Regions from separate parts of the Homo sapiens genome. Here region 2 is linked to region 1. The links come from fine-mapping of genetic effects on gene expression. A gene starts in region 1. The other region holds a variant in brackets. All regions are shown on one strand. Distances are from middle to middle. Region 1 holds the start of MRS2 (magnesium transporter MRS2). Region 2 overlaps GPLD1 (glycosylphosphatidylinositol specific phospholipase D1).

Region 1 (5,264 bases):
GGTAGAATGAGAGACTTGGAAAAGAAAGAGACACACAGACAAAGTATAGAGAAAGAAAAATGGGCCCGGGGGACTGGCGCTCAGCATACAGAGGACCCGCGCCGGCACCGGCCTCTGAGTTCCCCTAGTATTTATTGATCATTATCAGGTGTTTCCTGGAGAGGGGGATGTGGCAGGACAATAGGATGATAGTGGAGAGAAGGTCAGCAGGTAAACACGTGAACAAATGTCTCTGCATCATAAACAAGGTAAAGAAAAAAGTGCTGTGCTTTTGATGTGCATATACATAAACATCTCAATGCCTTAAAGAGCAGTATTGCTGCCAGCATGTCCCACCTCCAGCCCTACGGCGGTTTTCCCCTATCTCAGTAGATGGAATATACAATCGGGCTTTACACTGAGACATTCCATTGCCCAGGGACAAGCAGGAGACAGATGCCTTACTCTTATCTCAAATGCAAAGAGGCGTTCCTTCCTCTTTCACTAATCCTCCTCAGCACAGACCCTTTACGGGTGTCGGGCTGGGGGACGGTCAGGTCTTTCCCCTCCCACGAGGCCATATTTCAGACTATCACATGGGGAGAAACCTTGGACAATACCTGGCTTTCCCAGGCAGAGGTCCCTGCGACCTTCTGCAGTGTTTTGTGTCTCTGGGTACTTGAGATTAGGGAGTGGTGATGACTCTTAACAAGCATGCTGCCTTCGAGCATTTGTTTAACAAAGCACATCCTGCACAGCCCTTAATCATTTAACTCTGAGGTGACATAGCACATGTTTCAGGGAGCACAGGGTTGGGGGTAGGGTTACAGATTAACAGCATCTCAAGGCAGAAGAATTGTTCTTAGTACAGAACAAAATGGAGTCTCTTATGTCTACTTCTTTCTACACAGACACAGTAACAATCTGATCTCTCTTTCTTTTCCCCACATTATCAAGTCAAACATCCTCTCTTCTGTGAAGGCTTCTCTTTGTGCACTGCCCTCCTACTCCATCCCCAGTCCCAGTACCCTGCAGAATAAAATGTTTCTATCTCTGTCTCCTTAGCTTTGTGTCCATACATAGATATTGAAAGGAAGTCTGTGGAACTTGTGTCTGCCTTGTATTACTACTGTGGAAGGGACAATAAATTTATTAACTCATATTTTTAAAATATGCATACATACTGTATTTAACCTAAGACTTTTTTCATATTTTAAAGACTGGAATTGAGATATGTCTTTCAATCTACATGTTTAGAAAGCATAACTTATCAGTTTTTTTTTCTTTCTTGGTGGTACATAAAATAATGGTACCTTAAAATTGATGCTATCTTACATTTTATTAAATATGGAATAGAAATCTTATGTGTCTGTGCTCCTCATTCTTTATAGCAAAAGTTTAATACATGACATCATTCCATATGACAGTTGATTATTTTTGCCACTACTGGGGCTCAAACCATAATACCCCAAAATATGATGTTTTGGCATGCTGAGTCTTTGGGGTTTGTTTGTTTTGAGATGGGAGTCTCACTCTGTCGTACAGGCTGGAATGCAGTACAGGCTGGAATGCAATGGCATGATCTGGGCTCGCTGCAACCTCCACCTCCTGGATTCCAGCAATTCTTATGCCTCAGCCTTACAAGTAGCTGGGATTACAGGCACCTGCAACCACACCCGGCTAATTTTTGTATTTTTAGTAGAGACGGGTTTTGCCATGTTGGCCAGGCTGGTCCTGAACTCCTAACCTCAAGTGGTCCACAACATTGGCCTCCCAAAGTGCTTGGCTCCCAAAGTGCTGGATTACAGGCATGAGGCACCACGCCCGGTGGCATGTTGAGTCTTTGAATTAAAGGAAATTAAAAGGGTCTCAGAAAGAAGCCTAAAAATCAAGGCCTCTCTCTCTCACCTTCCCCCTTCCTTTTGTCTCTCTGATACTCTTACTTTTTCCAAGCACCTGAAGGGGCTCTCTTTTCCTGCACAGCCAGATAAGGAATTTCCTTATCTGACAGAGAAAACTCTTTTCCAAAGAAATGCAATTGTCTTAAAACCCGTTCCTTAGGAATCGCATTAAATAATCAGAAGAGATTAATCACCCAGAGAAGAGACAAAAACTGAAAGTCATAGCCACACTGAGACTTTTCATAGATACTTCTGAGGGTAGCTCCAAGAGATTACCTGGGAAACTTTACCTGTATAATAGGACAATTTTTGTTCAGAGTGAAGTTTCACAGCTTGTCCACAAGCGATTGTTTGTACTTCTGTCCCACTGAATGTCCAAGGAGAATCATTTGCAAACCACTGTCTGGCTTTCGGGCCCATTCATACCTATCTCCCTCTACTCAACAAAGAAGGGTATACAAGCATCTGGACCTTAATTGAGTTATTGAGTAATCACTCTTCTGTGATTTTTCCCTATGCACGTTAAGCAAATTTTGTATGCCTTTTTCTCCTGCTAATCTGTCTACTTAGTTCATTCCAGCAACTTTCAGAGGGCAAAAGTAGGAGCTTTCCCTCTTGCTCCCTACACCACGTTAAATTTAAATATAAATTAAATGATGTGGGAATGGGTAACCTGCTCATTTCCAAACTGCAATTTTCATAGGTATGAAAATTCTCCACAAACTACAAAACCATGACACTCCAAGCGCCCAAGAACCTAGGTTGGACAGCTCACTTAGTGCAGGTAAACGTGCTCCACCCATCTCCCAGCCCGCCTGCCCCCTCACTTAGGTACAGGTGCAGGTACAGGTAGGCAAGCAAACGTCTATTGGCTGTGGACTTAACAGGCTCGCCCACAGGTACCTTCCGAGCATGCGTGGGGAAGTAGCACGCAGGCGCGGCACGCCCCGCGCATGCCTGGTGCACAGAGTCTGCAGGTCGGGCGGTAGCGACAGGTCAGAGCTGCGGCCTGAGCAGCCAGCGTCCGGCATGAAGGTCTGGGGTCTGGCTGCTGCCTGCTTCTTGCTCCAGCACCATGGAATGCCTGCGCAGTTTACCCTGCCTCCTGCCCCGCGCGATGAGACTTCCCCGGCGGACGCTGTGTGCCCTGGCCTTGGACGTGACCTCTGTGGGTCCTCCCGTTGCTGCCTGCGGCCGCCGAGCCAACCTGATTGGAAGGAGCCGAGCGGCGCAGCTTTGCGGGCCCGACCGGCTCCGCGTGGCAGGTACTGCCCTTCCCCGGCAACAGCCTTGGGACGCTGGTCTTGCAGTGACCTTAGACTGCTGCCCCAGCCGTCCGGCGCGGCGCGCCTGTTGCTCCGCGCCCTCCGCAGGCCTCGGCCTCCCGCGTGTCCTGTGAGCTTGCACAGGCCCGCGGGCCGAGCTGCGTCCCACTCGCTCAGAATGCGACCTTGCTATGTGCGCTGTGCCCTGCCGGGGTCCCAGCGGCCAACCCTCTGCCTTCTCCTCCACCGCCCTTGCTGCAGATTATGTAACCATAGGAACAACCTAGGAATCGTTTACAGACCGTGATCACGTTAGTTAACACCCGCTTAAGTGCTCTTGTAAGAGGTTTTTTCTGTGTTGTTTTTGAGACAGGGTCTTACTATGTTGCCCAGGCTGGACTCAAACTCCTTGCCTCGAGCCATCCTAACGCATTAGCCTCGCAAAGCGCTGGGATTACAGGCGTGAGCCACCACACCTGGCCGAGAGGTGTTTTTAAACAAGGATTTCATCTGTTCGGAAGTCATAAGTATAAATTAATACTTCCCTGTTTTCTGTTTCTTCGTTATGGACACATTTATACAGTTGTCCAGTTGCACGGAGATTGGGGACGCACCTAGAAGTGAGGCTAAAGACTGAGTTGTTTCTGAGAACGACTTACTTTCAACTACAGTACTCTATAAGTAAACAGCCAGGGAGATCGGATTGAGAAAAAAAAATCTTATTTGCTGTTTATTTTTTCACCAAATGTTGAAGCATGGTGAAAAGTTAAGATTTTCACAAATGTGAGTGCAAATATTTGAGGAATAAAAGGTATTGAAATGAATGACTTTATTAAGAACATAGCAGTGTCCTCAAATATGTTTTCTCAATTGTGCTCTCAAAAGCCTCCCAAAGTAACTCCTCGTCAGCACCTCATTCTCCACTTATTGGAGAGGCTAAGTTGGGTTACATGCTCTGCACCCTCAATTGATAATGCTTGGGAATCCAGTTTCAGCAAGTTGGAGGAAACTTTTAGGACAAGCATTGACGTTCACAATCTCAATCCCGGTTACACTCTAATTTGTGACATTAAAACATTGAAAGGCATTTGTAATCAGCAAATGCCTTTTACCTTTATTCATCTTACCCTTATAGTGATAATTTGTATTTTGTAAAAGGGAAATGAAACTTCAGATACTAACAAATTACAACAATCATTACGTGTATGTAGTAGAAAAAAGATCAGAAATAGGTTTTTTTTTCTACAGTCTCTGGAATCAGTGTAATTACTTTGGAAGCACAAAACAGTGTCCTCTGTCAGTCATTAAATGTACTTGATTATACTTCACCGCTCACTTCGACTCAGTCTAATCACGTTTTAAATAGACAATTTTAAAATAAAGATTTGTCATTTCAGCTCAGTGGGGGTATTTCATAAGTATTCACTATAAAGGATATCTGTAGAAAAGAAGTAAAATCATAGGTTTCATAATTTATGAGCCAGTCAACTGGAATGCTTGAAAGATCAGGTGGTACTTAGGACCTATGTTTTCTAAAATGTATCTACTACCAAATGTGCATGAAGAGTCTTTTAAATTATGCGAAAAGGAAGACCAGACATTTTCTTAAATCTCAGAACACGATGTTGCACATTTGTTCATCCAACTCTGAGATATCAGTAATAATTAGAAAGGTAAAAGGGTGATTGGAATCCATCAGTTATTTTAATGCCTCACCTAAGCCATTAGTTTTAAAAATCATTCCCTGCCAAACCTAAGATAGTCACTAACAGATGTTAAAATTAAGAAGAGTATTTCTTCTTTTCTTATAGGAAAAATATTTAAAAATAATAAAATAGTCTGAAGGCCTCCACATACTTTGAGAGTTGTATTTTAGCTCTATGTGAAAACCAATCATGTGACCACAGGAATTCTCTTAATTTATTCTTCAGGTGAAGTGCACCGGTTTAGAACCTCTGACGTCTCTCAAGCCACTTTAGCCAGTGTAGCCCCAGTATTTACTGTGGTGAGTATGTACAGTACATTGGAAATCGTACAGAAAGTGCTTCCCATACATAAGTTAACTCGTTGGACTGTTGGCCAAGATACTACTTATTTTGAGCTTTATAATCATCATAGC
Region 2 (5,264 bases), 32 kb after region 1:
AACCTGGGAGGTGGAGGTTGCGGTGAGCCAAATTTGCACCACTGCACTCCAGCATGGGCGACAGAGCAAGGTTCTGTATAAAAAATAATAAAGAAAGAAAAAACTCTGAAAGTCTGGAAGAAAATAGCAAAATACTAATAATGGTTATTTTCTAAGGCAAGGGCCAGCAAACAATTTTGGAGAACAGGCAGATAATAATACTTAGGCTTTGTGGGGCATCAGTCTCCAAAGCAACCAGTCAGTTCTGCCACGGCAGCACGACAGCAGCCACGCGCAGTCCACAGCAGACGAGCCCGGCTATGTTCCACTACAGCTGTGTGGGCGCTGAAACTGCACTGCCGTTTAAACTTCATATGTTACAAAACATTCTGTTTTGATTTCTTTTCAACCATCTCAACATGAGCTGACTTTTTTAGTTCATGGCTTTACAAAATTAGGTGGCAGACGACTTGGCCCCAACCCCTGCTGTAGAGGATAAAATAGGAAGAGTAAAAAGGGAAACTTTCCACCAAGGAAGTGATGAGATTATATGTGAATGTTACTTTCTGTGTGTTCCTCTCCTTTTCAAATAAAAATAAAATCTGAAATAAACCTAACAAGTGAGACCACCAAATCCCACCCGTAGTACTAACATAAACATCAATGAAGTTCAGTCCTTGGGCTCACCTTTGCCTTGGACCTCACGGTGATGAGGGAGCTCCCAAACCTTGAGCTGGCCTGTAAAACATGCCGTCTGTTAATGGGCTTTGAAGAACATAGTGTAATACTTTATCCGTTTAAAATAAACCAAGGGGCATTGTTTTGGTAATTTTTCTTTCTTCAGTCTTTCAAGGGATACTTACTTCAGGAGAAATCAATACATATTGGGCCTGAAGAAAAAAATTGAGGAGAGAGACAATGTTATTACTGTTTGTGTGGCTTTTTAAAATCAATTTTAATTATACCCTTATACCCTCATTTCTACTTTTTTTTTTTTTTTTTTTTTTTTTTGAGAAGGAGTCTTGCTCTGTCGCCCAGGCTGGAGTGCAGTGGCGTGATCTCAGCTCACTGCAACCTCTGCCTCCCAGGTTCAAGCAAGTCTCCCGCTTCAGCCTCGTGAGTTGATGGAATTACAGGCGCCCACCACCACGCCCGGTTAATTTTTTTGTATTTTTAGTAGAGAGGCGGTTTCACCACGTTGGCCAGGCCGGTCTCGAACTCCTCACCTCAGGTGATCCACCCACCTCAGCCTCCCAAAGTGCTGGGATTACAGGCATGAGCCACCACGCCCAGCCTCATTTCTACATTTCTTGATTAGCCTTACAAATGTGCATGCCCTTTGACCCCAGAAATTCTACTTATAGAAATACAGGTCAGAAAAATAACCAGATGTATAAAAACATTTATGTGACTATTTACCATATTATTTAAAACAATGAAAATTGGAAATGGCACAATTGACTAACAATGGTTGCCTGAATAATGGGTAAATAAACTATGGTTTGTCTGTAGATAAAATACTCATCAGCCGGTAAATATCATATTATATAAGAATATCAGATAACATAAGAAAATGTTCTCGGTATATTGTTAGGTAGAAAGAAAAATCAAGTTACGGCCAGGCACAGTGGCTCACACCTATAATCCCAGCACTTTGGGAGGCTGAGGCAGGCGGATCACTGGAGGTCAGGAGTTCGAGACCAGCTTGGCCAACGTGGTGAAACCCCGTCTCTACTAAAAACACAAAAATTAGCCAGGCACGGTGGTGTGCGCCTGTAGTCCCAGCTACTCAGGAAGCTGAGGCAGGAGAATCGCTTGAACCTGGGAGGTGGAGGTTTTACTGAGCCGAGATCATGCCACTGCACTCCAGCCTGGATGACAGAGTGAGACTCCATTAAAAAAAAAAAAGTTACAAAATTATGCACAAATTATGCACAATAGGATCACAATTGTTAACCAAAATATGCACGCACATAGTGTAATACTTAAGGGTAGGCTTTAGAATCAGATCTTGGTTCAAATCTCTGTTGTGCCCTGCCTTCCTGGCAGTGTAACCTTGAATAAACTTCCTCGCTGATCTTTAATTTTTTTATTTTAAGACAGGGTCTTGGGCGGATCACGAGGTCAGGAGATCAAGACCATCGTGGCTAACACGGTGAAACCCCGTTTCTACTAAAAATACAAAAAAATTAGCCAGGCGTGGTAGTGGGCGCCTGTAGCCCCAGCTACTTGGGAGGCTGAGGCAGGAGAATGGCATGAACCTGGGAGGTGGAGGTTGCAGTGAGCCGAGATCACGCCACTGCACTCCAGCCTGGGCGACAGAGCGAGACTCCGTCTCAAAAAAAAAAAAAAAAAAGACAGGGTCTCCCTATGTTGCCCAAGCTGGTGCTGAACTCCTGAGCTCAAGGGATCCTCCTGCCTCAGCCTCCCAAAGTGCTGGGATTACAAGCATAAGCCACCACACTCAGCTGAGATCTTTAATTTTTTTAATCTGTAAATGGGCATAATATTAATTTCTTTTTTTTTTTTTTTGAGACAGAGTCTTGCTGTTGCCCAGGTTGGAGTGCAGTGGCATGATCTCGACTCACTGCAAGCTCCGCCTCCCGGGTTCACGCCATTCTCCTGCCTCAGCCTCC[C/T]GAGTAGCTGGGACTACAGGCGCCCGCCACCAAGCCCGGCTAATTTTTTGTATCTTTAGTAGGGACAGGGTTTCACAGTGTTAGCCAGGATGGTCTCGATCTTCTGACCTTGTGATCCGCCCGCCTCAGCCTCCCAAAGTGCTGGGATTACAGGCGTGAGCCACTGCGCCCGGCCAATTTCATAGCTTTTATGGGGATTAAATGATACATAGTTCTTAGCATATGCATACTAAATGCACAATAAATGGTAGTAATTAAATTCATAGGAAAAATACTAGCAGGATCCGCTCTAAAGGTAAGCAGGTATTAGCTCTGCAGAGTGGAATTTTAGGTAGATAATTTTTAATTCTCTTTGTACATTTTTGTATTTTCTAAAATTTCCATAATAAACTTTCACTAATTTTGCAATTTAAAAAATAATTTTAAATTTTTTAAAATAGGTGGGGTACGGTGGCTCATGCCTGTTATCCCAGCACTTTGGGCTGTAATCCCAGCCTGGCCGACATGGTGAAACCCTGTCTCTACTAAAAATACAAAAAATTAGCCAGGCGTGGTGGTGCATGCCTGTAGTCCCAGCTATTCGGGAGGCTGAAGCAGGAAAATGGCTTGAACCTGGGAGGAGGAGGTTGCAGTGAGCCGAGACCGTGCCACTGCACTCCAGCCTGGGCAATAGAGCCAGACGCTGTCTCAAAAAAAAAAAAAAAAAAAAAAAGTTAAATAATGGCCAAATGCTTTAGGCCCAGGAAATGTAACTTAAGGAAACTCACCCAAAAAAGGAATAAACAAAGAAATGAAACAAAAAGCAAAAGAGAGGACGTTTTAATGAAACTCCAGTGGCTGGCCGAGCATGGTGGCTCATGCCTGTAATCCCAGCACTTTGTGAGGCCAGGTAGAAGAACTGCTTGAGCCCAAGAGTTCAATACCAGCCTGGGCAACATAGTGAGGCCCCATCTCTACAAATAATAAAAAGATTAGCCGGGTGTGGTGGCACATGCCTGTAGTCCTAGCTACTCGGGAGGCTGAGACAAGAGAATCACCTGAGCCCAGGAGTTTGAGGCTGCAGTGGGCCATGATCACACCACTGCACTCCAGCCTGGGCAATGGAACAGGAACCCGTCTCTATTTTAAAAAGAGAAACTCCAATGGCCATGGCCTGTTTTCTTTCTTCTGTGCTGTGGGTGCCTAACCAAGCAGTGGCAGGCTGTGTGACCAGGGACCTACATAACACCAAGTCCAGTGGGACTTTAGCTCTGGGCACAAATGTTGCAGAACTGTAAGAACTGCAGGCAGCTGGGGCCCACAAAACATGGACAGATGATGGTGTCCTGACCCTAGGAGGTATGAATTCAGGTAAGCACTTTATAGTGGACATGAGTTAACAAGGAATCAGCAATTAGTGATCCTTTCCCAATAAGTTATAGAATTTTGTAGAACACTTACCTTTTCTTCTGGACATGGAGTTATCCATGATTTGCATTTGCCAGTCATGTCACCAAGGGTGGTCTCTTTGCCATTATATACATATACTCGGCCGTCTTCTCCCCCAATCAGTCCAGAGGTTACATCTGCTATCCTCAGGGGGGCTGCCATGATGATTTCATCTGAAAACAATAAAAACCGACAGAAGGAAGTATTTGACTCCTCACTGTCATCTTTTCCTTGTTCCGCTACTGGATCCTAACCCAACCTCTTACAAATAATATTAGTATCTCCTTTAGTCGGCTGTGATTTCATCCTGGCAAAGGCTTTTGTTTCCTACTTCATTCATCAATAGCAATTACTACAGGTGATTCTCATATTACCAGCTTCAAGAAGTGCAACTCCCTCTCTGGTCTTGCCTCATTCAAGATCTGTCTAAAGGTCCTTGGGCCACTGGGCTGTCAATTATAAGGGCAGAGCCCAGATGACCCAATTAGGGGACCCACCCCCTGGGCAAAGGGACTCAATTCTTGTCAAAGGGTCCTGTTCCTTTCTTACCTAAGCCATCATCATCCAGGTCACTCAAGTGCAGAACGCCACCAAATCGGGAGAAGCGGCGGTCTCCGCTGAAGGTGCTGAGCAGCAGAGGCTGCGCGTCAGATGTGAGTGCGTACATGCGAGTGGCTCCGCCTTGGTGTAGGGTCACGGTCAGGAATGCCACCTTAGACACGTCATCTGAAACGAACCACAGTTCCTGCTGGCCTCACAGAAAGGAAGGCATTACAGAACACGGAATAGCACCCCATCCTCAAGTGACACTGATCACTCGGGATCCTACAGGACAGTCGGTTTCGGAGCTGGTCATCTCCGGCAGTCAGGGAGGTACAACCAGCTTGGGCACCAAGGCACAAACACCAGAGAGCTTCAGTGATTTCCCTCCAGGCAGGTATTCTTTTTTCCAGTCTTATCCCCATAATACAGTCTCCACACAGCCACCTTTTTATTTTCTCGTATCACAAACTAGGTCACCCCCATGACTGACACATCCAAACGCAAGTGGACTCTGGATGGAGTCCAAACTCTTCACAAGGCCTTACAGAATCTGACTCCCACTTGGGGATCTAGCGCCATTAACCTTTTCACCCACACTTCACCAAAATGAACTTAAACCACAGCCCAATCTATGTCTTAAATTTGGGCCTTTGGACATGATGTGCTCTCTGCCTGGAA

The links. PIP is the estimated chance that this variant, and not a neighbour inherited with it, causes the effect. A credible set is the group of variants that fine-mapping cannot tell apart.
Region 2: its variant is the best candidate, but not a certain one, in a credible set for the expression of MRS2 in testis (GTEx, PIP 0.64).

Annotation. Positions count from the first base shown.
Region 1 is chr6:24,400,092-24,405,355 of GRCh38, forward strand. MRS2 (magnesium transporter MRS2) reads left to right here and starts at 2,845. Exons shown (of 11, transcript NM_020662.4): 1 at 2,845-3,145; 2 at 5,077-5,150. The coding sequence starts at 2,956. RefSeq lists enhancers at 1-537, 538-1,273, 3,482-4,216 and silencers at 250-544, 1,430-1,724.
Region 2 is chr6:24,432,521-24,437,784 of GRCh38, forward strand. GPLD1 (glycosylphosphatidylinositol specific phospholipase D1) reads right to left here. Exons shown (of 25, transcript NM_001503.4): 21 at 4,593-4,769; 22 at 4,056-4,216; 23 at 843-869; 24 at 667-717. Among named protein-coding and RNA genes, the nearest start is that of MRS2, 32 kb to the left of the region's middle. The variant C/T (reference allele first, on the strand shown) is at 2,616.